Regions from separate parts of the Homo sapiens genome. Here all the other regions are linked to region 1. The links come from fine-mapping of genetic effects on gene expression. A gene starts in region 1. Each other region holds a variant in brackets. All regions are shown on one strand. Distances are between the middles of the regions. Region 1 holds the start of UBASH3B (ubiquitin associated and SH3 domain containing B). Region 2 has its middle 7.8 kb from the start of CRTAM. Region 3 overlaps UBASH3B (ubiquitin associated and SH3 domain containing B).

Region 1 (10,480 bases):
GATCCCCTTAAAGTCTAGGGGTGAAAGTCATTCCCAGCAGTTCCAAAGCTGCCTTTGTTTGGCAAGGCAACACCCCAGCCTTTAGGATTTGAAACAGTGGGCAGACTTTACTGCCTGTTTTTGTTGTTGTTGTTATTTGTTTGTTTTTTTGTTTTGTTTTGTTTTGGGACGGAGTCTCGCTCGGTTGCCTAGGATGGAGTGCAGTGGCGGGCGTGACCTCAGCTCACTGCAGCCTCTGCCTCCCAGGTTCAAGCCATTCTCTGTCTCAGCCTCCCGAGTAGCTGGGATTACAAGCACCTGCCACCACACCTGGCTAATTTGTTTGTATGTTTAGTAGAGACAGGGTTTCACCATCTTGGCCAGGTTGGTCTTGAACTCCTGACCTCGCGATGCACCCGCCTCGGTCTCCCGAAGTGCTGGGATTACAGGCATGAGCCACCGCGCCAGGCCTTGTTTGTTTTTTTTAACAGGGTCTCACTTTGTCACTCAGGCTGGAGTGCAATGGTGCCATCTCAGCTTGGCTCACTGCAACCTCGACCTCCCAAGTTCAAGCAATCCTCCTGCCTCAGCCCTCCAAGCAGCTGGGACTACAGGCACACACCACCATGCTGGGCTAATTTTTATATTTTTAATTAAGATGGGGTTCACCATTTTGCCCAGGTTGGTCTCAAACTCCTGAGCTCAAGCAATCTGCCCACCTGCCTTAGCCTCCCAAAGTACTAGAATTACAGACCTACTGCATGTTCTTATTGTTATTACTTGACCGTTCCTCAAGGACAGAGTGAAGGAGAAGGAGAAGATATAGGACATGCTTCAGAAATTGTGAGTGCAGCCAACTGGGTCCATCCTGGGTCTCCCTCTGGCCATCTGAGAGGATGTACCATAGCAAAAATATGGCAGGGGCCAATGAGGGAGGGTTAAACATGCTCACATGAACAAAGAGAGCTTTGTGGTCCAGAGTGGATTCTGACATGACCACACACGGAGACATGTCAACTTGCTTTCCCTTCTGAGGGAGGAACTTCATGCTGATGTGTCAGCTCTGTCCCTGTGCAAGACCCCTACTCCCATCTCACTTCTTTTGGCCACTGTAAGATATACTGCCAGATGAATAGTCATTTCTCTTCTCTCAATTTATTTATTTGTTTAGAGATGGAGTCTTGCTCTGTCACCAGGCTGGAGTGCAATGGCATGATCTCAGCTCACTGCAACCTCCGCCTTCCAGGTTCAAGCGATTCTCCTGCCTTAGCCTCCGGAGTGGCTGGGACTACAGTCACATGCCACCATGCCCAGCTAATTTTTGTATTTTTAGTAGAGATTGGGTTTCACCTTGTTGGCCAGGATGGTCTCGATCTCTTGACCTTGTGATTCGCCCACCTCAGCCTCCCAAAGTGCTGGGATTACAGGGGTGAGCCACCGCACCCAGCCCCCCTCTTCTCTCTTTGTAATAGAACAGTGTAGACATTTATGAAGCTTTTCCTAGCTTTTCAACGTCAACACAATTAAAGCACAATGCATCTGAATTGCCAGCCCCCCAACCCAGTGCAGAACAAATGGCAGGAGTCCTAAATAAAACAGGGGTTTGCACTGAGCTGAAGACAAGTGAGGAAGCCAAGCTGGGATTTCTGTAAAAGTGTCCCAGACAAAAACAGTTTGCATCTCAGGTGCCTAGTTTTTCATAGTGCTTTTTCCAGTCTACCTAAAACTATTTTTATATGCATCATTTCCTTTATCTTACAGTTTGCCTAAAGGCAGGGAGAAAGACAATTAATTCAATTTTTCTGGAGAAACAGAGATCCAGCAATTCTATGTCAAGGGGCATAGATGGAGTCAAAAAACTATCTTAAAGGCTGGTGTCCTTTTATCATCATAACAATGGTCGTTAACTAGTTGTTTGGCCAAATGTTAAGAGTTCAAATCTTGGCTCTGCCATTTACTAGCCATGTGACCTTGGACAAGATACTTGACCTCTGGCTCAGCACCTTCATTTGTAAAGTAGTTCCTAGTTCATAGTCTTGTCAAGGAATTGTTTGAGTCACATATGTAAGAAGCAAAGAACAACACCAGCATATAGTAAGTACTCAATAAATTTGAGTTATCATTTATGTAGCGCTTTATGGTTTACAAAGCGCTTTCACATACATTATTATCTCTTGACTAAGATCCAGATCATTTGACTTTCAGCCCAGGCATTTGGAAACAATTCAGAATACTGGATAAAATCCAGCATGTTTTACCGAACACATCCAAGGAGGCTAATACTAGGTATGGTGTTGCCAGCCCAGTCTTGTCTTTTTGCTCCATGTCCTGGAAGAGCATTCTGCAAGGTCTCCAGGATATCCCCTTTGCTCTGGAAGCAGCTACTACCCAGGAAGCATTAATTTTCCCTCATCCTTTGTACAGCAGGAGGCAGAATTAATACACATTGTTGCTTAAGCTCCAGCTGTCTTATCTCCCTGCTTCCAAACACCACTGGCTATTCTTTAGGAAACCAATTCCGGGCTCAGGGAGTTACACTGTATCATTTCCCCTGGTAAAACCTTCACAGGCCTTATAAAGCAACCTCAAAAAGCCACTCCATGGGTGCTGGTCACCATCCCTCCCCCATATTCCAACCAGGGACAGGCCCGGACTGACATTTCTGGAAAACCCAGTGTGTGCAAGGTTAGGTTACCACGGTCCATACCAATGAGGAAATTAGGCTGTAGAGAGAAGTAACTTGTCTAAGGCACCGCAGTGGATACGAGTGCTGTAGCTACGCACTTACCAGCTCTATGATCTTCCCCAACCTCTCTGAGCTGAGTTTTCTCATCTGTAAAACTGGGATAATGATTAAACACACTCCTAGGGTCAGTATAAAACTTCAGTGAGTTCATTCATTACGATTAGCACAATGACTGGCACATACAAGAGCCCAATAAATGTTAGGTTTTATTATTATTATTACCCAAAAAAGACTATCAGTTAGGGTGTACTCATTGCCTCTTTCATTATAGCAAGTGGGACCCTTGTCCCTGACTGAAGACAATGACTTTGTTTCCAAACGAAAGAGGGTTAGCATCCCCCAGCCAAATTCACCAGGTGGGGCATGGGGCATCAATATGGTTGTGGCTTCCACCATCTTTGCAGTGGGAGTAGTTTTGTCCAGCCTATGATACAATTCACTTATTATTGTGCAGTGGTGATTCGGTCCGTCTTTGAATCCTTTTATTGACAGGATATCCACTCCCTAATGAAATAAGCCCGTTCCCTTTTGAACACCTCTTATAATTAGGAAGTATGTTTTCTCTGTTCCTTCTTCCTCTACCCTCCTAGCCCTTCCTTCTTCTCCTCCTCCTTCCTCCTTTCTTTTTCCCTTCCCTCTTCTTTCTGCCCTGTCCCTCTTTTCTTGTCCCCTCCCAGGTCCTGCCACCTCTGAGAACCTGAGGTCCTTCTCCCCAACCCCTCTGCCCCACCGGGAAGGCACTATTCAGTCACTGACCATAACCTTGTAGAGCGCAGTAGGTCTTTAGTGCAGCCACTTGGCCGGCTGATTGGGAACTCAACTTCCGATGGTCCTAACAACCCTTTGGGTTTTGCAGGATCTTTGAGAAGCAAAACCTTTTACCTAGGCCTTACGGCTTGGCCTTCTGGTCCATTAGTATCATCCACCAGTTCACCCAATTTCCATTAATAACCGCATCTAGAATCACATGAAACTTGAGATGGGTTGATCTCCTGTCTTGAGGCCCAGCTGGGCGGGTATGCCAGCCAAGGAGAGGGCTGGGGCGCCGGGGGTGACTCTCGGGAGGTGAAGCACACAAGCAGCCCATAAGGTTGGGATCCTCCGTCTCCAAGTAGCGCGACTACAGCTCTTGCCCGCACGGAGCAGCCTCGGACAGCGCGGCCGCTTTAAGAGAGGGGCGGGGCCCGGGTACAGGCAAGTCAGGGCCAGCCCACAAGGCTCCTTTTCCTTTTTGATCCATTCAAAAATTACTCATTGCAAATTCCCGGACTGCTAGGCGAGGAGAGGGAAGGGGGCGGAGGAGACAGGGCTACTGCAGGCGCAGAGCTGGGGGCAGCCGGGGGCCCGAGTGGCTGAGGCTGGTCCCGCAGCGGCCGCTTGCCGGCGTTCTGGCTCCTGTGGCCTCACCAGGAAGCGTCAGAGTCCCGACACTGGGGAAGCTCGGAGCGCCGCCTCCGCTGCCGCCGCCTCCTGCCTGGCTCTGGGTCCCCGAGCCCCCTCCCCTGGCCCAGCCCGACTCCCTCCTCCTTCCCGAACCATCCGGCTCGGGCTCCTTCCCTGGCGATGGCTGGCCGCTGAGCCATGGCTCAGTACGGCCACCCCAGTCCGCTCGGCATGGCTGCGAGAGAGGAGCTGTACAGCAAAGTCACCCCCCGGAGGAACCGCCAACAGCGCCCCGGCACCATCAAGCATGGATCGGCGCTGGACGTGCTCCTCTCCATGGGGTTCCCCAGAGCCCGCGCGTAAGTGGCCGGGCTCGCAGCCCTCGGCGACCCCTCCCGCGCGCGCGGCCGGCCCTCGGCTTCGCTCCGGCTCGCCTCCCAGCGCCTGCGGGACAGGCAGCGCGCTCCCCGCTGCCCGAGACCTGTTGGGGGCGGGATGGGCGCGCTGGCAACCCGGGACTCGGCTCCGGGCGGGGGTGCGGGGGAAGACGCGGCGCGGGGGCGTTGGGCCAGGGCTCGCCGTGGGATGCCTAAAGCTGGGGGACGAGGGCGCGGGGTTCGAGTCCCGGGTATAGTGCTCAGCCTCCGCCCCAGCCGGGTGGAGCTCAGCGTTTCTCTCGCGCGCTCCCCTAGGTCTCCAGCGCCGAGCGCCTAGGGAGGCGGGGCCCTGCGGAGGACTCGGGCACCCTCTCCGTCTGGAATACTGGGCTGGTCTGGGATCCTCCGGTGTCTGGGAAAGGGCGGGAGACTGCGGGGCAGGGAGGCCGGCGCCCCCGTTGCAGCGGCTTCCAGCTCCGGATGTCGCTCTCGGGTTCGGTCTCCCCCTGGAGTAGGAGGAGCGGGAGCGTGGGTGTTCCTGCGTGTTCATTGATGGGGAGGATGGAATCAGAAGGAGAAGCGATCCCTCCAGGGGACCTGGGTTCTCGTCAGTGGTGACGGCAGCTCAGAAATCTGTGGGTGCCTGAGAGTAAGGAGGGGGAGCTGTTCTTCATCCTTCCTCTAGGAGAGTGGGGTAGGGGAGGGCAGGGAGAGCGCAGGTGGCTGCCCCTGGAGCCTGCTGGGGAGAGGCCTGTTTGCCAGCATAGGGTGGCGGCGGCCGGAGTCGTCTCAGGCCGGTCGGCTCAAGTCTCAGGGGCTGGAACTCTGCCTAAGAGGAAGCCAAGGCCCAGCGGCCAGGCCCTTCTCCCCTGGTTAATCCCTGCCGTGCAGATTTCTTAGGTGGGGACACAAGGCCTGGCGTCCGGACTGGGCGCAGCTTCTTTTCATCTTTGAATTACAGCACCTGAACAGGAGAGTTGGCCAAACTTAATCAGTGAGGGCCAAGTAAATGAAAGTCCTTTTTATTTTTTTCCCTTCTCACATTTTTTTTTCAGGTGATAACTTTATTTATGTATTTATTTTTCTGAGACGGAGTCTCGCTGTGTCGCCAGGCTAGAGTGCAGTGGCGCAATCTCTGTAACTTCCGCCTCCCAGGTTCAAGCGATTCTCCCACCTTAGCCTCCTGAGTAGCTGGGACCATAGACATGCGCCACCACACCGGGCTAATTTTTATATTTTTAGAAGAGATGGGGTTCTGCCATGTTGGCCAGGCTGGTCTCGAACTCCTGACCTCAGGTGATCCACCCACCTCGGTCTCCCAAAGTGCTGGGATTACAGGCAATAACTTTATGTCTCCCCTCCCTTATCTCTGGGCAAACCTTGTTTATTCTCTACTAACTTGGTTGTAATCTGTTAATCAAAGTAGACCCTTGAATTTGTTATTCTCCAGGCTGCTGGGACACGTTGGAGTGGCCTTAGAAGGCTGCAAAATGGACTGATGGTTTCTGCCTTCCACTGACGTCCCAATACGACTTCCTAATACTAGGGCTCCAGTTCCTGATACCAGAATTACAGGGAGAAAATGTGGGTTCTGCAGGGGTGTGTCAGGTGTGGACGCTTCAGGTGAAGTCGTCGGTGTGGATGATCAATGTGCACAGCTCTCCTTAAAAACTGGAGGTGGGGCTGGGTGTAACCCCAGCAGTTTGGGAGGCTGAGGCAGCCGGATCACTTGAGATCAGAAGTTTGAGACCAGCCTGGCCAACATGGTGAAACCCTGTCTTTACTAAAAATACAAAAATTAGCTGGGTGGGGTGGTGCATGCCTGTAATCCCAGCTACTTGGGAGGCTGAGATAAGAGAATCGCTTGAGCCCAGTAGGTGGAGGTTGTAGTGAGCCAAGATCGCACCACTGCACTCTAGCCTGGGTTACAGAGCGAGACTTCATCTCAAGAAAAAAAAAAAAAAAAAGCTGGAGGTGGGAGTGGGGAAGTCAGCTGGGGAATGCTGCAGAATTAGCATAGTCTCAGGCTACTGCCTTTTTTGAAATAAGGCCAGCATTAAAAACCTAAATTGCTTAATTAAGGGAAGAAATACTTAACTGAACTCCTCAGTCATATTTGAGATTCAAATTCAAATCAGCTTTAAAGGGACATCTTTTCTCCTGCTCTGAGTCCAGGAGGTCTTGACATGTCTTGACAGATTAGCATAAGGGTCATTTTTGGCTTGTTTAACCCCTGAGGTCTCCTAATAGCTAGCATGTATTGAATACTTACTCCATACTGTTCTAAGTACTTATATCTTTATTACCCATTTTATCCTCCTAGCAACTCAATGAGGAAGGTACCACATGCCCATTTTATGAATTGGGCAACTGAGGTTTAGAAGGGTTGCATAACTTGCTCAAGGTCACAACAGTAAGCAGTGAAGCTGGGATTCAAACCCAGGTATTCTATCTGCACAGCCCAGGCCTCACACCATCTAGGGCCAGTAGGGCCAGGATAGAAATGATTGAATGTGGGTAAAATGCTTAGAACAGTTCCTGGCACATAGTGAGCAATCGTGAAGTGTTAGTTACTGTATTAGCTTCCTGTGACTGCTGTAACAAATTGTCACAAACTGAGTGGCTTAGAACAGCAGAAATTTATTCTCTCACAATTGTAGAGACCAGGAGTTGAAAATCAGTATCGCTGGGCTGAAATCAAGGCATCAGCAGGGCCGTGCTCCCTCTGGAGGCTCTAGGGGAATCCACTCCCTGCCTCTCCTACCTTCTGTTGGGGGCTGGCATTCTTTGGCTTGTGGCTGCATCAATCCAATCACTGCGTTTGTGGTCAAATTGTCTTTGTTTTCTGTCTGTGTCCAATCTTCCTTGGCATGTCTCTTATAAGGATACATGTGGTTGTACTTAGGGCCCACTTGGATAATCCAGAGTAATCTCCCCATCTCAAGATCATTATCTGCAAAGTCCTTTAAAAAAAAATGTATAAGGCGGCATTCACAGCTTCTAGGGATTAGGATGTGGGTGTCTTTTGGGGGATCATTATTTAGCCTATCACAGCTATTATTATATTACTACTAGCACTGCCCCTCTTTACCAAAGAGGTAACAAGAGCAGGCCTGGAGAGAGGGAGGTTGGGTTTGCTGCTCTTTTTCTTAAATTCTCTGCCTGGAAGGGAGTGAAGGTCCTGGAGGTCACCTGATCTAGTTGGACTCCTTGCCCAGGCTTGCTTCCCTCCTCTACTTCAACCCAGAAAGGCTGATGTGGTCGGCCTTCCCCCCAGTAACTTAGACCAGTATGAAGAGGGGCCCTCGGAGGCTTCAGAGAACAGGCATTTAACTTCATTTTTGAGAGTTGAGAAGAAAGAGCAAGGGCATCGGGCTTAGCTCATCAGAAGCTTCTCTCTTGAGCTTTATGCCTGGAGGGCTGAGCATAATGAAAATCCAAAGCCCCAAAGAGCAGTGATGGTCTCCTGGGTCTAGAAGACTTGGATGTGATGCTTTAAGAAGGGGTAAGATGGTTGTCTCAAACCTGGCCCTTTTGACAGACTGACATTAGCCAGGGCTGACAGCTCTAGGCCCTTTTGACAGAGTGACAGCAGCCAGGGCTGACAGCTCTAGTTTCCCCTATGGGTGTAACTGGGTCTGGTGGTGTGCGGCACCAAGAAGGGGCACTCAGGCCAGGCTCTTGGTGGGCTGGCAGAGAGGGTTGAGGCCAGCAAGGCTGGATCCCACCCAGCCCGTGCTGGGCTGCACTGTGCTGTGGTCTTGCAAAAGTCACTTAGTCCCCTCAGGGCCATGCTGTTGCCCTCTGAGGGGAACGCAATTAATGACTGCATGCTTGTTAAGTGCTTGACAGAGCTAAGAGGACCAGAGGGCTGCAGGGCTGGCTCAAGCAGGGTGACCTCAGGGTGTGCTCTCTCTAGCTCATTACTCCCTGGAGCTGGGCTAGGTTTTTTCCATTCCACTATATGAACTTCAGTCCAACTTAGACACTGCTATAGGAGAATTTGCCTCATGGAGGACTGAGAAGTGGCGATTTCACGGTGTGTGTGTGCGTGTGCGCTCGTGTGCAAGTCCAAGTTAAGGAGGTGTTCGGGAGGCATCAGGAAGGAAACCTTTCAAAGGTCAAAATGGCCAATCGCTTCCTTTTTTCTATGCCCACTAGCACTTCCCTGTTTTAAGGGTTCTAAAAATAAGGGTCCAGCTTCCTTGAGGCTAGTGAGGTTGGTTGGAAGGAAAAGAAAGAATGTATTGGGGGCAAAGACCTGAGGAAGAGGAGACCTCACAGGCCAGGAGAGGGTCTGAGCCTAACACCGGAGAAGATGGGACAGGACTCAGATCAGAGCCATCACTTTGCACAGCCAGATCCGATGTCAGAGCACTGTCATCCCCCTGCTGACCTCTGGTTTCTGGGGAGACAGGCTCTCATCTCTTCTGTAGCTTGGGGCTGATGCTGGGCCTTGGAGCAAGTCACTGAATAATTGAATTGGAGGAATCCTTGCTGATACAACCCTGATGAGTTTTTTTATTATTTTTATTTTTTGAGGCTGCTGGTGGCTAGAACTTTGTCTACAACAAATGGCTTTTTAATGTTTCCAGTGATTAAGAGATAATAGTCTTGGGAAGGACACTGTGGCAGGGATCAAAGGTCCTAAGGTCTGGTCTAGCTTCTGAATGATATCTGCACCTTTTAGGTCTTCTATTTAACCTCTTTTCCTTAATATCTTCACCAGCTTCTGTGCGTGGCAAGACCTGTCATGTGTCACGGGCCTTTCCAAAGACAAAATGAGATAACAGACAGAAAAGAACTTGGGAAAGTTAAAGATAGGATCAGGATGCAAGATGTGATTGGGGCATTATTGTGTTGGATTGCAAGAAGGGAGAGGAGGTGAGATGGTGGTTGAGGTGTCTGGCGAGGATTTACGTGTATTATTGGATTGTCCTTTTTTTTCTACTGAGAATATTTGAACAATGCCAAATTAAAGAGCAAGGCAGTGGCAGAAGGAAAGAGCTGGAATGAGCGCTTTTGACTTGGCTTTGGACAGTAAGCTGTGTTAGCTATGCCTCACTGCCCAAAGATAAAAGCAGCTCCAAGTTGGCTGCATGAGGAGTTGAGAAGCGGCATGTGGAGCCCATGAATTAAAGTATCTGGTTTCCCTGGCTTTTTCCAGCTTACCTGTTGGTTGACATTGGATCCTCTGAGAACACTTGGCCAACCCAACATCTCTGAAATGTAGCTGACTCTGGCGTGGGGGCTGCAGCTGCTTTCCCAGCCTTGGATAGACAGAAAGAGGAAAAACTGGAACCCACCTGGAGCTGAAGGGCTCTTATAGGTGGGCAGGGCAAGGAAGTCTCTAATCTACCTGCTGTGACTGTGCACCCACATAACACGCCCTTCTATCTGTGTTATTATACACTGTAAAAATTGCTCTTATGTGTATTAGATACCCCACAGCAGTCTTGTGAGGTAAAGCACACAACATATGCTTTGTTTTAAGATGAGACTGGAGGCTTAGAGGAGTTCAGGACGTGTCTAGAGTCACACAGTTGGTATGCAGGGACTGCATTGCCATAAGAGCCTCAGGCTAAACTGCAAGTCTCCTGAACTTTCCAGGCTACACGAGGTCCTGGTTCCAAAAAAAAAAAAAACAAAAAAAAAAATACCTTGATATGCTTTTTTTCTTTTTTTTTTTTTTTTTGAGACAGAGTTTCGTTCTTGTTGCCCAAGCTGGAGTGCAATGGCGTGATCTCAGCTCACTGCAACCTCTGCCTCCTAGGTGTCAAGTGATTCTCCTGCCTTAGCCTCCCAAGTAGCTAGGACTACAGGTATGTGCCATCATGCCCAGCTAATTTTGTATTTTTAGTAGGGACAGAGTTTTATCATGTTGGTCAGGCTGGTCTCGAACTCCTGACCTCAAGTGATCATCCCGCCTTGGCCTCCCAAAGTGCTGGGATTACAGGTGGGAGCCACCCTGCCCGGCCAGCCGATGTGCTTTTTT
Region 2 (10,480 bases), 170 kb after region 1:
CCTTCTCTCTGTGTCTCTACCCCTTCTCCGCCTTTCTGGAGGGCAAGAAACCCCCAACCCCTTCTCTCTGTGTCTCTACCCCTTCTCTGCCTTTCTGGAGGGCAAGAAACCCCCAAACCCTTCTCCTTCACCCTTAGCAGGAAGTCCCACATTTCTGGGGGAGGGGCAAGTACCCCAACCTTGTATCTCTGTGCCCTGATCCCTTATTTCTGCGCTCCAACCTCTTATATCTCTGTGCCCCGATCCCTTATTTCCATGCCCCAACCTCTTATATCTCTGCACCCTGATACCTTATTTCTGTGCCCCAACCTCGTATCTCTGTGCCCTGACCCCTTTCCTGCTTCTCTGGAAGGTAAGAACCCCCAAACCACTTCCCTCTGTGTCTCTACTCTCCCTTTTCCTTAAACTTGCCTCCTTCACTATAGGCAACCTTCCACCCTCCATTCCTCCTTCTTTCTTCTCCCTTAGCCTGTGTTCTTAAGAACATAAAACCTCTTCAACTCTCACCTGACCTAAAACCTAAATGCCTTATTTTCTTCTACAATGCCGCTTGACCCCAATACAAACTCGACAGTAGTTCTAAATGGCCAGAAAATGGCACTTTCGATTTCTCCATCCTACAAGACCTAAATAATTTTTGTCAAAAAATAGGCAAATGGTCTGAGGTGCCTGACATCCAGGCATTCTTTTACACATCGGTCCCTCCCTAGTCTCTGTGCCCAGTGCAACTTGTCCCAAATCTTCCTTCTTTCCCTCCCACCTGTCCCCTCAGTCCCAACCCCAAGCGTTGCTGAGTCTTTCTAATCTTCCCTTTCTACAGATCCATCTGACCTCTCCCCTCCTCCCCAGGCTGCTCCTCGCCAGGCCGAGCTAAGTCCCAATTCTTCCTCAGCCTCCGCTCCTCCACTCTATAATCTTTTTATCACCTCCCCTCCTCACACCCGGTCAGGTTTACAGTTTCATTCTGTGAGTAGCCCTCACCCACCTGCCTAGCAATTTCCTCTTAAAAAGCTGGCTGAAGCTAAAGGCATAGTCAAAGTTAATGCTCCTTTTTCTTCATCAGACCTCTCCCAAATCAGTAAGCGTTTAGGCTCTTTCATCAAATGTAAAAAACCCAGCCCATGGGCAAAGACACAACCAAAAAAGAGAATTTTAGACCAATGTCCTTGATGAACATTGATGCAAAAATCCTCAATAAAATACTGGCAAAACGAATCCAGCAGCACATCAAAAAGCTTATCCACCATGATCAAGTGGGCTTCATCCCTGGGATGCAAGGCTGGTTCAATATACGCAAATCAATAAATGTAATCCAGCATATAAACAGAGCCAAAGACAAAAACCACATGATTATCTCAATAGATGCAGAAAAGGCCTTTGACAAAATTCAACAACCCTTCATGCTAAAAACTCTCAATAAATTAGGTATTGATGGGACGTATTTCCAAATAATAAGAGCTATCTATGACAAACCCACAGCCAATATCATACTGAATGGGCAAAAACTGGAAGCATTCCCTTTGAAAACTGGCACAAGACAGGGATGCCCTCTCTCACCACTCCTATTCAACATAGTGTTGGAAGTTCTGGCCAGGGCAATTAGGCAGGAGAAGGAAATAAAGGGTATTCAATTAGGAAAAGAGGAAGTCAAATTGTCCCTGTTTGCAGATGACATGATTGTATATCTAGAAAACCCCACTGTCTCAGCCCAAAATCTCCTTAAGCTGATAAGCAACTTCAGCAAAGTCTCAGGATACAAAATCAATGTGCAAAAATCACAAGCATTCCTATACACCAACAACAGACAAACAGAGAGCCAAATCATGAGTGAACTCCCATTCACAATTGCTTCAAAGAGAATAAAATACCTAGGAATCCAACTTACAAGGGATGTGAAGGACCTCTTCAAGGAGAACTACAAACCACTGCTCAAGGAAATAAAAGATGATACAAACAAACGGAAGAACATTCCATGCTCACAGGTAGGAAGAATCAATATTGTGAAAATGGCCATACTGCCCAAGGTAATTTACAGATTCAATGCCATCCCCATCAAGCTACCAATGCCTTTCTTCACAGAATTGGAAAAAACTACTTTAAAGTTCATATGGAACCAAAAAAGAGCCTGCATCGCCAAGTCAATCCTAAGCCAAAAGAACAAAGCTGGAGGCATCACGCTACCTGACTTCAAACTATACTACAAGGCTACAGTAACCAAAACAGCATGGTACTGGTACCAAAACAGAGATATAGATCAATGGAACAGAACAGAGCCCTCAGAAATAACGCCGCATATCTACAACTATCTGATCTTTGACAAACCTGAGAAAAACAAGCAATGGGGAAAGGATTCCCTATTTAATCAATGGTGCTGGGAAAACTGGCTAGCCATATGTAGAAAGCTGAAACTGGATCCCTTCCTTACACCTTATACAAAAATTAATTCAAGATGGATTAAAGACTTAAACGTTAGACCTAAAACCATAAAAACCCTAGAAGAAAACCTAGGCATTACCATTCAGGACATAGGCATGGGCAAGGACTTCATGTCTAAAACACCAAAAGCAACGGCAACAAAAGACAAAATTGACAAATGGGATCTAATTAAACTAAAGAGCTTCTGCACAGCAAAAGAAACTACCATCAGGGTGAACAGGCAACCTACAAAATGGGAGAAAATTTTCGCAACCTACTCATGTGACAAAGGGCTAATATCCAGAATCTACAATGAACTCAAACAAATTTACAAGAAAAAAACAACCCCATCAAAAAGTGGGCGAAGGACATGAACAGACACTTCTCAAAAGAAGACATTTATGCAGCCAAAAAATACATGAAAAAATGCTCACCATCACTGGCCATCAGAGAAATGCAAATCAAAACCACAATGAGATACAATCTCATACCAGTTAGAATGGCAATCATTAAAAAGTCAGGAAACAACAGGTGCTGGAGAGGATGTGGAGAAATAGGAACACTTTTACACTGTTGGTGGGACTGTAAACTAGTTCAACCATTGTGGAAGACAGTGTGGCGATTCCTCAGGGATCTAGAACTAGAAATACCATTTGACCCAGCCATCCCATTTCTGGGTATATACCCAAAGGACTATAAATCATGCTGCTATAAAGACACATGCACACGTATGTTTATTGCGGCATTATTCACAATAGCAAAGACTTGGAACCAACCCAAATGTCCAACAATGATAGACTGGATTAAGAAAATGTGGCACATATACACCATGGAATACTATGCAGCCATAAAAAATGATGAGTTCATGTCCTTTGTAGGGACATGGATGAAATTGGAAATCATCATTCTCAGTAAACTATCACAAGAACAAAAAACCAAATACCACATATTCTCACTCATAGGTGGGAACTGAACAATGAGATCACATGGACACAGGAAGGGGAACATCACACTCTGGGGACTGTTGTGGGGTGGGGGGAGGGCGGAGGGATAGCATTGGGAGATATACCTAATGCTCGATGACGAGTTGGTGGGTGCAGCGCATCAGCATGGCACATGTATACATATGTAACTAACCTGCACAATGTGCACATGTACCCTAAAACTTAAAGTATTAAAAAAAAAAAAAAAACCCAGCCCAGTTCATGGCTTGTTTGGCAGCAACCCTGAGACGCTTTACAGTCCTAGACCCTAAAAGGTCAAAAGGCTGTCTTATTCTCAATATACATTTTATTACCCAATCTGCTCCTGACATTAAATAAAACTCCAAAAATTAAATTCCAGCCCTCAAACCCCACAATAAGATTTAATTAACCTCACCTTCAAAGTATACAATAATAGAAAAAAGTTGCAATTCCTTGCCTCCACTGTAAGACAAACCCCAGCCACATCTCCAGCAAACAAGAACTTCCAAACGCCTGAACCACAGCGGCCAGGCATTCCTCCAGAACCTCCTCCCCCAGGAGCTTCCTACAAGTGCCAGAAATCTGACCACCAGGCCAAGGAATGCCCACAGCCCAGGATTCCTCCTAAGCCACATCCCATCTGTGCAGGACCCCACTGGAAATCAGAATGTTCAACTCACTTGGCAACCACTCCCAGAGCCCCTGGAACTCTGGCCCAAGGCTCTCTGACTCCTTCCCAGATCTTCTCGGCTTAGCAGCTGAAGACTGACACCGCCTGATCGCCTCAGAAGCCTACAGGACCAACACAGACACTAAGTAACTCTCACAGTAGAAGGTAAGTCCGTCCCTTTCTTAGTCAATACGGAGGCTACCCACTCCACATTACCTTCTTTTCAAAGGCGTGTTTCCCTTGCCTCCATAACTGTTGTAGGTATTGACAGCCAGGCTTCTAAACCTCTTAAAACTCCCCAACTCTAGTGCCAACTTAGACGATACTCTTTTAAGCACTCCTTTTTAGTTATCCCCACCTGCCCAGTTCCCTTATTAGGCTGAGACACTTTAACTTAATTATCTGCTTCCCTGACTATTCCTGGATTACAGCTACATCTCATTGCCGCCCTTCTTCCCAATCCAAAGCCTCCTTTGCATCCTCCTCTTGTATCCCCCAACCTTAACCCCCAAGTATAGGATACCTCTACTCCCTCCTTGGCGACCGGTCACGCACCCCTTACCATCTCATTAAAACCTAATCACCTTTACTCCTCTCAATGCCAAGATTCCATTCCACAGCACGATTTAAAAAGATTAAAGACTGTTATCACTCGCCTGCTACAGCATGGCCTTTTAAAGCCTATAAACTCTCCTTATAATTCCCCCATTTTACCTGTCCTAGAACCAGACAAGCCTTACAGGTTAGTTCAGGATCTGCGCTTTATCAACCAAACTGTTTTGCCTATCCACCCCGTGGTGCCAAATCCATATACTCTCCTATCCTCAATACCTCCCTCCACAACCCATTATTCTGTTCTGGATCTCAAACATGCTTTCTTTACTATTCCTTTGCACCCTTCATCCCAGCCTCTCTTCGCTTTCACTTGGACTGACCCTGACACCCATCAGGCTCAGCAAATTACCTAGGCTGTACTGCCGCAAGGCTTCACAGACAGCCCCCATTACTTCAGTCAAGCCCAAATTTCATCCTCATCTGTTACCTATCTCGGCATAATTCTCATAAAAACACACGTGCTTTCCCTGCTGACCGTGTCCGATTAATCTCCCAAACCTCAATCCCTTACAAAACAACAACTCCTTTCCTTCCTAGGCATGGTTAGCGTGGTCAGAATTCTTACACAAGAGCCAGGACCGCACCCTGTAGCCTTCCTGTCCAAACAACTTGACCTTACTGTTTTAGCCTAGCCCTCATGTCTGTGTGCAGCAGCTGCCGCTGCTTTAATACTTTTAGAGGCCCTAAAAATCACAAACTATGCTCAATTCACTCTCTACATTTCTCATAACTTCCAAAATCTATTTTCTTCCTCATACCTGATGCATATGCTTTCTGCTCCCCGGCTCCTTCAGCTGTACTCACTCTTTGTTAAGTCCCACAATTACCATTGTTCCTGGCCTGGACTTCAATCCAGCCTCCCACGTTATTCCTGATACCACACCTGACCCCCATGACTGTATCTCTCTGATCCACCTGACATTCACCCCATTTCCCCATATTTCCTTCTTTCCTGTTCCTCACCCTGATCACGCTTGATTTATTG[A/G]TGGCGGTTCCACCAGGCCTAATTGCCACACACCAGCAAAGGCAGGCTATGCTATAGTACAAGCCACTAGCCTGCCTCTTAGAACCTCTCATTTCCTTTCCATCGTGGAAATCTATCCTCAAGGAAATAACTTCTCAGTGTTCCATCTGCTATTCTACTATCCCTCAGGGATTACTCAGGCCCCCTCCCTTCCCTACACATCAAGCTCGAGGATTTGCCCCAACCCAGGACTAGCAAATTAGCTTTACTCAACATGCCCCGAGTCAGATAACTAAAATACCTCTTAGTCTAGGTAGACACTTTCACTAGTTAAGTACAGTCCTTTCCTACAGGGTCTGAGAAGGCCACCGCAGTCATTTCTTCCCTTCTGTCAGACATAATTCCTCAGTTTAGCCTTCCCACCTCTATACAGTCTGATAACAGACCAGCCTTTATTAGTCAAATCAGCCAAGCAGGTTTTCAGGCTCTTGGTATTCAGTGAAACCTTTATATCCCTTACGGTTCTCCGTCTTCAGGAAAAGTAGAACGGACTAAAGGTCTTTTAAAAACACACCTCACCAAGCTCAGCCACCAACTTAAAAAGGACTGGACAATACTTTTACCACTTTACCTTCTCAGAAGTCAGACCTGTCCTCAGAATGCTACAAGGTACAGCCCATTTGAGCTCCTGTATAGACACTCCTTTTTATTAGGCCCCAGTCTCATTCCAGACACCAGACCAACTTAGACTGTGCCCCCAAAAAACTTGTCATCCCTACTATCTTCTCTCTAGTCATACTCCTATTCACCATTCTCAACTACTCATACATGCCCTGCTCTTGTTTACACTGCCGGTTTACACTGTTTCTCCAAGCCATCACAGCTGATATCTCCTGGTGCTATCCCCAAACTGCCACTCTTAACTCTTGAAGTAAATAAATAATCTTTGCTGGCAGGACTATGCTGAATCTCCTTAGGCTCTCTCTAATCAGATGTCCTGAGTCGTCCCAATTCTTAGACCTTTTATACCTGTTTTTCTCCTTCTCTTATTCCATTTAGTTTTTCAATTCATACAGAACTGTATCCAGGCCATCATCAATAATTCTAAATGATAAATATTCCTTCTAACAACCCCACAATATCACCCCTTACCACAAAATCTTCCTTCAGCTTAATCTCTCCCACTCTAGGTTCCCACGCCGCCCCTAATCCCGCTCGAAGCAGCTCTGAGAAACATCGCCCATTCTCTCTCTCCATACCACCCCCCAAAATTTTCACCGTCCCAACACTTTACCACTATTTCGTTTTATTTTTCTTATTAATATAAGAAGACAGGAATGTCAGGCCTCTGAACCCAAGCTAAGTCATCATATCCCCTGTGACCTGCACATACACATCCAGATGGCCAGTTCCTGCCTTAATTGATGACATTCCAGCATAAAAGAAGTGAAAATGGCCTGTTCCTGCCTTAACTGATGACATTGTCTTGTGAAATTCCTTCTCCTGGCTCATCCTGGCTCAAAAGCTCCCCCACTGAGCACCTTGTGACCCCCACTCTGCCCGCCAGAGAACACCCACTTTTGACTGTAATTTTCTTTTATCTACCCAAATCCTATAAAACGGCCCCACACTTATCTCCCTTTGCTGCCTCTCTTTTCGGACTCAGCCCGCCTGCACCCAGGTGATTAAAAGCTTTATTGCTCACACAAAGCCTGTTTAGTGGTCTCTTCACACAGACACGCATGAAAGTTGCCTTAATGATTTACCACTTCCCTTCGTATAACTCTTTATAATTAAAAAAAAAAACACTTCCTCATTTGATCCTCATAACAATTTTACAAAGTAAGGAGATCAGGTATTATCAACTCAATGAATGAAACTAAGATACTGAGCTTGTGGATTCATTCATCATTCTGTAATACTTATTGAACACTATTTCCAGCAGAGTGGCAGGCTGGAGCTATAGTGGCAAAAAAGAATGCAAGGCCCCTGCTCTGATGGAGTGGGAGACAGAGAATGAATACATAAATAAACAAGATAATTACAGATTTTGATAAATGCTCTTTAGGAAATAAACTGGGTAATATGATAGAAAGTAACTTTGAAGGGATGTGGGGCAGGGGTTACACTCTTAGTTAGGGCATGGCGTCCCTGAACAGGTGATGATGAAACCAACAGTTAAAACTGAGCAGGAGCTGGTTGGGCTGAAGACCTAAACGAGGAGGGTATCAGGAAGCTGTGTATACAGAAGCCCTCACATGGGAAGACACTAGCTGGGTTAGAACAGAAGAGGCTGGGGAGCTAAAGTGTAGTAAGCATGATAGAAAGTGGGGGGCTTATAAAGACATGGGGTCTTACAGACCAGGGGTCAGCAAAGTATTGCTCATTGTGCAGAATCTCACTCGTGAGCAGAATCTGGCCCACAGCCTGCCTGTACAGCTGCAGGCTAAGAATGATTTTTAGCTTTTCAAATCTTTGGGGGAAAAAGCAAAGAATAAAGAGATTGATATATGAAATTAGAGTTCCAGTATATATAAATAAAATTTTATTGGAACACAGCCTCATTCACTTATTTACATATTGCCTATGGCTATTCCAGGATACAAGGGCAGAGTTGAGAAGTAAAACTATTTTAAATGTTTATACTTGGCCCCTTGCAGAAAAAGTGGGTTGATCTCATCATAGACCACGGTGAAACATTTGGATTTTATTCTAAATCCACAGAATCCAGCATCAAAACTATTTTACCTGACATAACAATTCATAGATTGGTGGCATCCAGTGGCCAGCAAAGTAACAGCTAGCATTTGAGTGCTTGTATTTATCAGACACTTTTCTAAGTACTTCACATGTGTAAGCTTTTTAAATCTTCTCACCAACTCTATTCGGTAGAAACTATTATTCCCGATTTATGAAAGAGGAAGTTGAATCTTAGAAAGATTCAATAATTCACACACAGTCACACGGCTCATGAGTGTTAGGGCTGAGACCAGGACCATGTCAGCCTGGTTCCAGAGCCTGGACTAATCATGGAAAATGTTTTTTAAAAGAAACTTCAATGAAAATATTGCAGAAGCCTGAGGTGTCTTGGGGATACTTGGGTTCTTCAGAATACAGTTTGGAAACCACAACTTTCATCTAATCTCATTTATAGATGAAGACGCCAGGGCTGGTCACTTATCTGGGCAGAGCTCCATGAGCTGGGGCCTGAAGCTGGCCCTTGCTATCCTGTGGTATACTCTCCGAAACCACAATTGCCTTCTGAAATCAGCTCATATTTGGGTTGTTTTCAGAATGATCTATTTCACTAGAGTAAATAAAGTTTCTACCCTCACGAAAGCCCAGGTTCACAATAGTAGGTTTTTTCGGCAGAAGTCTTAACAAAAGGTGAATGATGCCTTTCCTCCTCCCGGCACACCCAACCTACCATGGTTCCTGTGGGGATGAGATGCTGCTCCAGCCACCTGAGGTCTGCAGATTTATGGAGAATGTTTTTTGTGCCAAGATGCTGGGTGCTCTGGGTATTATAATATTTTCAATTTAACCATCCATGAGTGCCCCATAAAGAAGGTGTGGCCCCGGGTGAGCTGGTTCTCTTCCACCGAGGGCAAGTATAAAAATTTGAAGTCCTTCAAAGGAATCTCATAGACAAAGAAAAATGTGTGTGTGTGTGTGTGTGTGTGTGTGTGTGTGTGTATCACTGACTCACTGTGTCACTTCAGGCAAACTTCTTAATTCTTTGGGTTTTTTAAATTTTATTTATTTTTTTTGAGACAGAGTCTCGTTCTGTCGCCGAGGCTGGAGGGCAGTGGCGCAATCTCGGCTCACTGCAACCTCCGCCTCCCAAGTTCAAGCAATTCTCCTGCCTCAGCCTCCCAAGTAGCTGGAACTACAGCTACCGTAGTCTGGCTAATTTTTTGTATTTTAGTAGAGATAGGGATTCACCGTGTTGCCCAGGCTGGTTGCAAACCCCTGAGCTTAGGCAATCCACCCATCTCAGCCTCCCAAAGTGCTGAGATTACAGGCGTGAGCCACCACGCCCGGCCAATTCTTCATTTTTAAAAATGCTACAGTCGAACTTTCTCAGCTCCTGCCTTATGATTCCTGGACAGTCACCTCAGGCTGTAATTATTCTTCCCATTTTACAAGTGAGGAAACTGATTCCAACAGGCAGGTAGTGTGCTTAGTGCTACACAGCTGCTAGTGACAGGGCCTAGGGGACAAGCCTGGGTCTGTCTGCTACTCACTCCCATGCTCGTCCCACTAAGCTCCCACTACTGCTAGGAAACTTCTCTCTGAATCAATAATTAATTTCAAAGGCTGCTGCTCTGGCTTAGAAACTCCACAGTCACTTTGTGCAAGTTTTACAGCAGTGCTCAGAAAACCTCAACACTTGGTGTGAGTTATCTGAGGCATCTTCTGGTAGATGCAGGCGAGTCCACCTCTTACTCTGACCTTGGGAAAGGTCACGATTCTTCACAGAATCTGTGAAAGGTCAAGAAGAAAGTGTAGGCCCCTTTTGTAAATGCAACAAAAAAACCCAGTGGCTTCTAGACATAAGGAAATCCCCTGTTTTCTGACCCTTAAAACAGTTCATCTTTAGCCTATTTAATAAATGTCTTATTTTTCATGTTTGCACCCCCCCACCCCCAAAACTCAGGTTGACAAGGGTGACGATGAAAAATAGAGAGGATGTTTGTTTATTTCTCCAAAATATGTCCCCCCTCTGCCACCCCACCAAATGTTATTTCCTATTAGTATTGAAACATAATATGAAGATTTCATAAAACGGAGACCAAAATGACAAACTAGCTATCAGTTGTGAGGTCTCCCACATACTGTTCAGTAGAC
Region 3 (10,480 bases), 160 kb after region 1:
TGATTTTGCAAAAAATAAAAAATAAAAAATATGCCTTCTGGAGTGATGTCTGTTTGGTAAATCATTGTTGATAATTTCCTTGTTAGTGGTATTTGGAATGCATATAGATTGTCTTGTCATTGTGCTTAACATTACCATAAGTGTGTCTTTTCCACTCAACTAGCTGTATTCGTATTAAAATGAAGTCTCTTATTTCAATTACCTAGTGTTGTTGGGAACTAATTGAACAGCTACAGTAAAAGAAGTTCCTATCTCATTGCCTTTGTGGAAAGGCTTCCCTATGTGGTAAAAGAAAGGCATTCCTCCGTAACCTAGGCACTCTGCAAGTCCAGTGTTTAATTTCAAAGCAGTGATGAATTGCTCTTTTGAAATTACTCTAAGTAATCCATGTGTTAGAATACAGATGAACCTCCGTTTGATTTCACAGCCTTCAGCACAGGCAACTGTTACTGAGTCTGCACGAACTTAGATAATGAGGTGCAGGGTTATTTGCATTTAAATTGCAATCCAGCACACGTGTGAGAAAGAAGAGGCACTAGTCTAAAAGGCTGCATTGCGGGGAGAGATGAGACAGGCAGAGGAGGGTGGGGTAAAGAGCGATTTAACATCTATTTAGGTTAATGTTCACTTTACAAAGGTGATGGGGGATATTTTGTTAGGTGATAGCAGAAGCTTTTCATTTTTAAACATAGAATTAAAATTGGATTTGCTTCTCTTTAATACTTCAACATATTGAATTTCCCTAGGAAAGTGACTAGCTATAATGAAAATTCAAGCGAAAAGGGAAAAAGATTGTAAATGCAGATGAAATAACTTCATTTTTAAGTACAAATAATAGTAGGATTGGTGTATGTAGGTTTAAAATTATAGTGATGACTAGTCGAACTTAATATACAATCAGTTCTTGCAAATACTTTACACTTAGCTGCCATTACACAACAAATTGGAATTTTCCAGCTGTTCAACTATCATGGACTCTGTACAGGATAGATGTGTATAATGGAAAATATGTACTGCTTCTTTCTTTGATTGCCACTCAAGATGGAAACACCATGCCAAGGCATTTTGGTTATACACAGATCATTCTAAACCTGTTATTTTGGAGAGGTGTATTGGTTTCTTTCTCATTTATAAGGCTATTGTATTTTTTTTTGTATGTGATTCAGGTGTATTTATTTGAAGACTATTTGTAGTTATAGGAAAACCACACCTACCTGTATTGCCAAATTCTTTGTAAACTCTCCGTGGCACTTGTGCTTTCCTGGCTGAGAGCTCTCCCCTGTTGATACAGCTATGGCACCATTGTAATTACAGATGCACCTTTCAGGAGCATCTCCATTAAATGGTTCATAGATGATTTAATAAAAAGAAACTTCTCAGTTGATCCAGAGCAATGTCATTTTAAATTCTGAGTGGTCTCTTCCTATCATGTTTTCAGATGTTACTTTGTTCATTATTATTTCATAAATGTGCATTCAGAGTGTGATTCTGTTTTCAAAAGGCCAGAGGGCGCTTTCTGCTGATGGAAGGGGAGGATGCTCCAGCAGCACTGTGTGTCTCTGGACCCTTCTGACCAGGCATCAAGCCTCCATGCCATTCAGACTGGGGAGCTGAACACCCACTCTGTGTGAAAATAGCAAGCTTCAAAATGCTTCCCCTGCCCTATGTGCAAACTAGGAGACAAAAAATATATTTCCTTCTACCTATCCTAGGTTCATGGCTGAGGCCCCTATAACAAAACATAGATTAACAAAAGAAAAAGCATACAAGTTTTTCATGTCTTGGGGCCAAGGGAAAGCTTTCCCTCTGCCCTCTAAAGGTTCACTGAAAATGACTGACAAGAGGCAGATTAATAGAAAAAGCATAAATAAATTTATTAACTACGTGAGCTTGTAGAGTATCACAGAGTGAGTGCCCAGTCTCCCAACGGGGTACAGATGCTTATATGCCCTACATCTTAGGGGAAAGAGAATGGGGAGGTGTGGGTGATTTTAGGCAGATAGTAAATGATTTTTAAGGAAATTCAATGGACTTGAAGAACATACAATGGTCTGGGACAAAGTCGGTCAGGCCTACAGAGTGGACAGTCATTTGGGACAAAAGTCTGTCCAGGTTTGTTGTCAGACTTTAGTCTTCCATCCTGTGATGTGAGTTCAGTCAATGGAAACTCCGAGAAGGGACCAGAAGTAATTGTTTCCTTCTTTGGTAGATATGAGAATAACCTCATCCTGTGCTTTGGGACAGGTAGAGGACTGAGAGGGGATAGAGGAAGGAAAAGCAATTGTTCTCCTTGGTGGGCCTGTCCAGTCTTTATGTAGATAGGGGAAAGGCTTCTTTTAGCATCTGTTGATCTCTAAGGGCCTTTAATTCAAAATACTCAGCTGGGTGTGGTGGCTCACACCTGTAATCCCAGTATTCTTGGAGATCAGAGCCGGAGAATTGCTTGAGCCTAGGAGTTTGAGACCAGCCTAGGCAACATAGCAAGACCCTGTCACTACAAAAAAATACAAAAATTAGCCAGGTGTGGTGGTGTGCACTTGTGGTCCCAGCTGGTCAGGAGGCTGAGGTGGGAGGATCGCTTGAGCCCAGAATGTCTAGCTGACAGTGAGCCATGACAGTACTCCAGCCTGGGCAACAAAGCGAGACTCAAACAAACAAAAACCCAAAATACTCATTATACCAGGGAGCCATATTTGGGGGTGAAGCTCCCTGTTTTCCTTCACATGACACAAAAGCCTTCATAAGGAAATGAAGATTTGAAGAAAACTAGTTAAACCTGAATATTTCAATGCAAAATTTGATGAAGAATAGATAGTCATGGAGAAACGTGATAGAACTAAGAGTATGATCTAATGGTAATAAACTGGGAGGACTTAATGAGGCCTGTGTGTTCAGATTCCCCTGGGTGTCCCTCTGTCTTCAGAGATGAGGGTGCTCATTTTCTCCCGCTCTAGGGAAGGCACCTTTCACATGAAGTTCTCAGGACCTGCGTCAGGAAAGGTTAGAGTCCTTCCTAGGTTTTATCACCTGATTCAGGGGAGAAGGGTGGGGCGGGGGAGAACAGTCAAAGTGACCTTTCTGCTCCTGTTTTTTTCTCAGATTCCTTCATCTTAAACTATTCAATAGGCTGAGATGCAATATTTTCGGGTATAGTGCCCTGAACTCCATGTCACCTTCATGGTTTACTACTACCCACCATCTACCTCAAGGAGTTGCACCAAGAATGATCCAGAGAGTGAGAATTTGGGTAAGAGAGAGGGCACATTCAGCTCAAACTAGAATCTGCACTTCTAAAAGCCATAGACCATTTTTTGTTGTTGTTGTTGTTTTTATGTTTTTGTTTTTAAGATGGAATTTCACTCTTGTTGCCCAGGCTGGAGTGCAATGTTGTGATCTCGGCTCACTGCAACCTCTGCCTCCCGGGTTCAAGTGATTCTCCTGCCTCAGCCTCCCAAGTAGCTGGGATTACAGGCACCTGCCACCACTCCCAGCTGATTTTTTTTGTATTTTTAGTAGAGACGGAGTTTCACTATGTTGGCCAGGCTGGTCTCGAACTCCTGACCTCAGGTGATCCACCCGCTTTGGCCTCCCAAAGTGCTGGGATTACAGGCGTGAGCCACCGCACCCAGCTGACTCTATTTTTTTGAAGTAATTATATGTTAGGCTAATAAGATCTTAAAATAAGCCTTGAATGCAAATTTGTACCGAGGACATGAATACAGATTTTCATTAACCCAACTGTCTACTACCTTGGCAGGGTTTACTTCCTGAGGAAACATAACAGCTAATGTTCATATCTGACAAAAGACCAGGCTATATTTAGCCTTCTGGCTGGTTCTCAGCCATTCTCTGCTTGACAGATTCCCAAACTCATTCTGCTCTTTTGTGATGTACGTAAAGGCTGCTTGCACATCCAGAGAAAACGAATAGTGTACTTGGGATTTGTTTAAGCTTAAATCAGCAAAGTGTCTGTTTTTGGTTTTTTTGTTTTGGAGGGTTTATTTGAAAGTTGTTTGAGGACCAAAAACAATCTTCTTCCTGAAGAAAGAAAATACTTCACTGTGCCAGAAATAAACATGTAAAGCCCAATTGGCTTGGTTCTGGCTATGTAAAGAGGTAGGGGCGTGAAGGGAATGTACCAAGGGAACGTAACAAGGGAACTGGGTGAAAGATCAAAAGTGGTAAAAGGAAGGAAAGACAGAAATGATAACTGGTAAAACAAGTTTTAGAGGAGCCAGTCTGGAAGTTTTCCAAAAAGGCCAATGACGTTCTAGTTAGCAAAAAGGAAAAA[GA/G]AAAAAAAAAAAGGCCAGGCACAGTGGCTCATGACTGTAATGCCAACACTTTGGGAGGCCAAGGCAGGCAGATCAGCTGAGGTCAAGAGTTCGAGACCAGCCTGGCCAATATGGCGAAACCCTGTCTCTACTAAAAATACAAAAATTAGCCAGGTGTGGTGGTGCATGCCTGTAATCCCAGCTACTTGGGAGGCTTAGGCAGGAGAATTGTTTGGACCTGGGAGGCAGAGGTTGCAATGAGCTGAGATGGAGCCACTGCACTCCAGCCTGGGTGACAGACCAAGACTCTGCCTAAAACAAACAAACAAACAAACAACAAAAAAGGTGGGGAATGTGGGATAATTTGGCTGACTAAGAAGTTCTCATGGGAGAAATAAGATCCCAACAAGAGGAGAAAAGCCTTAAAAATATATATAGTCTGAATATCACCTTTTAATTAAGCTGACTTCTGAGAATAATGCTCTTTTTAAAAATCTTTTAAGTATATCATTAGCAGTTTTGGGCAAACAGCAAACATTCTCATTTCCTGGCTTTTCTTTCCCTGAAGTTTGCATTTTAAGAGGGATGGTTTCTTAGGTAAGACAAGGGAGAGAATTGACAGGTACAGAGAAATACTGAAAGTTTTTAGAGGTTCAGGGTAATTAATAATCAAATTTCTCTTTTGAGTACAAAGTACCTTTTTAGCTCAAATGAGAAGGCAGAAAGCAAACCAATAAAACAAAAAAAAAATGTTTTTAACATGCTCTGAATATAAACCAAAATTTTAATCCAAAGGTATATTCAACAAGTGACTCAAGACTCAACTAATAAGCCCCTTTATGGCTTTAACCAAGGTGGCCTTTCCAAGATCCAGACCACTCTCACAGGACAACCAAGGAAAGGAAAGCTTAGCTAGCCACAAATGGATGTAAACCCACATTTTAGTTCACCCATATTCTTGAGGCGCTCAACTTTTTGTTTGGCTGCCTGCAGCAAAGAAATCTGGGATAACCTACATGCCCCTGATAAATGGAGAATCAAAAAGAAAGAACAGTCAGTAAGACAAAACAGGAAAACAAAAGTTGTCCATCTTTGCAAAAATTATGACTGAGCAAATTATTACAGTGAAAGAGATCTGACCTAACCAATTTTGTCTGGCTTCTAACCTCTAAGCTGTCCTTGTTCATTTCTAGGTGTAGGCCAAACTAACTTGGGGGGAACTTAGTTTATAGTTTAACTTTGAAACAAAGACAATAACAGCCTTCTCCAAAAACAAACCCCCTTCTTGTCAGGGGACTATACTGCCTTTGTAGGACTAAAAAATTAGCCACAGGATTAGAAATTATGGCTTAGGAGTCATTGCTGTAAAATCTGAGATCAGTGTTTGAGATATTTTGCAGACCCTGCATTGATTGATACACCAGCTGATGCCACCCAAATTGATAAACTGGGTCATCTGATTTTGTGTCATCCACCCAGGAACTGACAGCACAAGAGGACAGCTTCAAACCCCTATGATTTCATCTTCTACCTGACCAATCAACACTCCCTGCTTTCTGATTCTCTACACACCAAATTATCCTTTAAAACTCCAATTCCAAAATTTTGGGGGAGATTGATTTTAGTAATAACTTTGTCTCCCCATGTGGCATGGCTGGCCTCACATCAATTAAACTTTTTCCTTACTGCAATGCCATGGTTTTTATTTGTGCAGTGGGCAGGAAGAACACATTGGGCAGTTCCAAATTTGAGGGCTCATCCAGGATCACCCTTGTGACTACTGCTTGTGGTTTGGTAGCCCCCTCTCCAGCAATGGATCTAGAGGCCAGCCCAAGAGGCTGCCTAATTCTCTTGGACTGGAGGCTGTCTCTGGCACTGTTTCTACTGGCAGGGCATTGACAATCCATGGTGCATGGATTTCATTGCAATGGAGAAAAAGTCCTATAACTGTAACCCCATCATTAGATGTCTGTCTGTGGTCCTATCATGGGGTGTCTGATTTGGTGCATATTCTAGGTGCTTCCAGCACCTCCTTTCTTCTCCTGATTGGTTTGGCTTCTTCTGGGGTCTTGGTTCAGCTCCTTTAAGGGGCTTGGCTGAATCTCCCTAAATAGTAGGAAGAGTCTTGGTTCAGGAGATTTTTCCTTAATCAGGAAGATTTTGGGGAGATTTCTCAGGAAGAGAGTAGGTGGTTAGTTTGGAAAGAATACTTAGAATTATTGGTTAGGGATCTTTGTTTAGAAGGTCTTCTGTCTGTCTTGTGTTTGTTGTGTCTGTGTTTGTATATGTGGAGGTGATCTCTGAAAAAAATGCTAATGGAAGTCAAGCAGGCCTAACTTGGAGAACTCTCCTTATTTGGTCACATTAGGTAAACCCTGAAGCAATTGTTAGCAGAAGCTCCACAGGTCTGACACAGGGTGACCATCTGCTCTTCATCTTGCCCACAGATCACCCACTGAATTCGCAGTTGAAGGTCATCTCTCCCCACCTTGAGTGGATCAAAGATGACAGGGATGAACAGGGGCAAATTTGAGCCTTGCCAGGTCAATATCAGGTGCTGAGAAAGGTGACTAGTGTCTATTTTGTTATATGTATTTTGCTTTGGCTGGGATGGAAAATGTTCATTTGTTCCCCAGGCAGTCTGTTGGGCATCATCTTGCAAAACTGACAGGCTTTTGCCTATGGTTTTATGAAACAAAAGGAGATGATTTTCCCTTGTGATGCTTCTTGGCTCCCATGGTCCTTGGAATAGAGGGGGAAAAAACAAATTTTCAGTACTTTCATGGAGAGCTAATATATTCTTGAGGTTTGCTAATTCAGTATCAAGCAGAACAGGAGTTAATGCATGGACTGAACTAATAGAAGACTGAAATTATCTCTTATGATTTTTTGTTTAAAACATTTACTGATTCTTTATGTTTTGTTTTTAGAGTCAAGAAAAATTTTTTTTCTTTTGAGCTAACTACAGCTTTTATCAATTGAATAAAGTATACTCTGTGAGAAAACCTTGGAGCATATTTCTTTCTCTCTACCTGATTTCTCCGGAATTTGGAAACTATTTGTGAGTATTCTTAACTTTATGGCAGTATAGTTATTTGCCTACATGTAATAATAATGTTTGCTTTTATAACAGGACATCGCTGGAGACACTGATTATTTTACCAAGGTTTTGACTGTAATGGCATACTTCCATATACAAACAGACTGCTTTAAGAAATCAAAGTTGACTTATAGGGCCAAGAAAACCCCTGGTAAACACTGGCCTTAAACCTTTTCTATGCAGTCCCTGTCCAGGGTTCTCGATCTGTGGTAAGTGAACAATATCACTTTCTGACAAGCCCAGGAGCCCCAAGTTATCTTGGAACCTCAAGGAGAGGAATTCACCCAAGGGTCATACTGATATTTGCAGGCACAGATAAATCCATGGCTGGGCTCAAGGCTTTGAAAAATCTAAGCTGAAATTCCTTATGGAATAAAGTTCCATTAAAGTCAATTTTCAAAAAAGCCTATATGGCAAATAATTATTCTTGCTGACTTTATGCAAATATTCATGCCAAGTATGATAAGACTAACACTTATTTTGCAAGCAAATTTGTTTTTAATAAAAATGGGGACTGGAGAGAGACAAACTGTATTTCAGAGAAAGCTATAGTACCTCTGTTGTTAGATTCTAGTCTTGTCCACTGCTTTTGAGTTTTTATTATTTTCTGCAATTTAGACTGATTCCTGAATTCTTTCTGGGTTACAGGTCCCAAAACTAATGTTTTCAAATCTTTCTTTCATTTTTCTGACTTGAACTCAGTGAAATTGCTGCTATATCTTCCCTGAGGCCCTGAAAGCTGAAGCTTATTCCTTGTGGTACAGGCAAGAAAAACATGTCAGATTGCCACTGCCTTCCTCCTCTATAACTAAAGATGCTTTGAGTCTAATGTTTCAATAAATTATGCCCAACATTAACCTTTGTTTTTCTTCTGTTTCCACAGAAATGCCTCCTATTAAAAGCTTGTTTGCTGTCATCACATACAGAAGCCTAGCCCATCTGCACTGCCACTTCCTGATATGGTAAACAGCTATTTAACTGAACTGATCTAGTCTCAGGACTAGGAAACCAATTAAAAATATATGGGTTGGTATATTTAAATTTGCCCTTTCCTGTCTATCCTAATCAGTCTTTCTAATAACCTCTGACCCAAATATCTCTCTACTACAGACCCCATTTCTGATTGATTCTTCGCGCTATTCACCTGGATCCCTCAGAGCTTCAGATCAGTTCCACAAAGGCTTCTGAAGCTAGGACTCTCACTCCTTACCCTAGAACTCATTATTTACTTTATAGCTCATTTAAATGCTGTGCTAAAACGATAGAGAAGAATACTAATGCCTTTGTCATGCAAGCCTTGAAACCCCGATTAGGCACCCTGAGTGTGTGCAGACAGCTGCAAGGCAGTTCCACTCCTCTTACCTTGGAGTCAGCTCCTACTCCCATCATGCCACATGTCAGCAAGAAAAAGCTAGAGTGGTCATTGTGCTTTTTCCATCTTCATAGCCCACATCTTAAGAATAAGGTGTTATAAAACCCAAAGAGAGAGACTGAAACTGCCTTTGCAAAAATTACTGAGAAAATTATTACAGTGAAAGAGATCTGACCTAACTGACTCCATCTGGTTTCTAACCTCCAGACTGCCCTTGCTCATCCCTGGATGTAGGGTGAACTAACTTTGGGAGGAACTTAGTTTATAGTTTGACTTTGAAGCTAAGATGATAACAGCCTTTCCCAAAACAAACTCCCTTTTTGTCTGGAAACTAGACTACCTTTGCAGGACTAACAAATTAGCCACAGGATTAGAAATTATGGTTTAGGAGTCACTGTTGTAAAACTTGAAATCAGTACTTGAGCTTTTTGTTTTGTTTTGTTTTGTTTTTTGCACTCCCCATATTCCGATACACCAGCTGATGCCACCAAGATTGATAAAATGGCTCATCTGATCTTGTGGCCTCCACCCAGGAACTAACTACTAGCACAAGAAAACAGTTTCAACTCCCTGTGATTTCATCTCCAACCCAACCAATCAGCACTGCCTACCTTCTGACTCACTACTCACCAAATCATTCTTTAAAACCCCAGTCTCCAAATTTTAGAGGAGATTGATTTGAGTAGTAACTCCATCTCCCATGCTGGCATGCCTGGCCAGCCTGACATCAATTCAACTCTTGCTTTATTGCAATGTCATGGTCTTTATTTGTGCAGCAGGCAGAAGAACCCATCAGACAGTTACAGCAGGGGGAGGATCATTAAGGAGTGTCCAGAGTCATACAAATAGCTTCCAAACCTCTAAAGGTATTCCTGCCTCAATTGTGACTCAAAATCAGTAAGAATTTTTATAACTTAAAACCAATAAATGTAAGAACTGAGTTTTATGGAGGATACATGCAGTCCCTCTCAAGATCTAAAGTCTCTTTCAAAGATAGCCTAAGACAGCAAAGATCCTCATTGTTAATAAGACAATGAAGTTTAAGACAATTAAGACAAATTTTCTTGAGAGCTGGCACATTCAGATAAACGGACATTTTGGACTCTCAGCCAACTGGCTGCCTGCCTGGCATAAACCTGATAATTTATTCCCTTTGAGGTAGCACCTGAGAATAAATTCGCTGATTACAAAGCCAAGTTTCTCAAGACATAAAAACAAGACAAAAAGATAATCTTATTATGGTTTTCCTCCTTATGACAAACCACACCAAATACAAAAGCAAGAAGAACAAAGACCATTTATAGGAGTTTATAGATCAATAATCAATAAGCCTAAGATAAGTCTACAAGAGTCACAGATTCAAAGCACTAATTTAAAAAAAATTCTCCTGTTATTTTAATTTTGGAAAAGAAAAAGAGACAAGAGGTGACTCTTACTGTCTGCTCAACTGGATCCCATAGGTAAAGATCCATAGGACTGCCTGATAAGAATTTCCTAACCTTTTCCCAGCTTCATCAGGTCCTAGGTTCTCTCAATTGTAGCTTCCAGAGGAGCAGAGCAGTTTTAGTATCCTGCCAGTTGTGCCAAATCTGTAAAGCAAAGAGAACTTCCCACCTCCTCTGAAAGTTCAAGTGTGCTAAACAAATGGACAATACACAGATTAACAGGAGGAAAGGCATGCAAATGAACTCACCTCAGACATAGGAGTTCCGCAAATATACAACTCTAAGAACGGCC

The links. PIP is the estimated chance that this variant, and not a neighbour inherited with it, causes the effect.
Region 2: its variant is the best candidate, but not a certain one, in a credible set for the expression of UBASH3B in lung (TOPMed, PIP 0.60).
Region 3: its variant is the best candidate, but not a certain one, in a credible set for the expression of UBASH3B in whole blood (INTERVAL, PIP 0.89).

The regions. Positions count from the first base shown.
Region 1 is chr11:122,651,744-122,662,223 of GRCh38, forward strand. It overlaps UBASH3B (ubiquitin associated and SH3 domain containing B), which reads left to right and starts at 3,979. Exons shown (of 14, transcript NM_032873.5): 1 at 3,979-4,467. The coding sequence starts at 4,307. RefSeq lists an enhancer at 3,884-4,385 and a silencer at 4,589-4,638.
Region 2 is chr11:122,825,448-122,835,927 of GRCh38, forward strand. No RefSeq gene overlaps it. Among named protein-coding and RNA genes, the nearest start is that of CRTAM, 7.8 kb to the right of the region's middle. RefSeq lists an enhancer at 6,729-7,401. The variant A/G (reference allele first, on the strand shown) is at 5,651.
Region 3 is chr11:122,813,090-122,823,569 of GRCh38, forward strand. UBASH3B (ubiquitin associated and SH3 domain containing B) reads left to right here. Exons shown (of 14, transcript NM_032873.5): 14 at 1-1,384. Among named protein-coding and RNA genes, the nearest start is that of CRTAM, 20 kb to the right of the region's middle. RefSeq lists enhancers at 1-111, 112-719. The variant GA/G (reference allele first, on the strand shown) is at 4,292.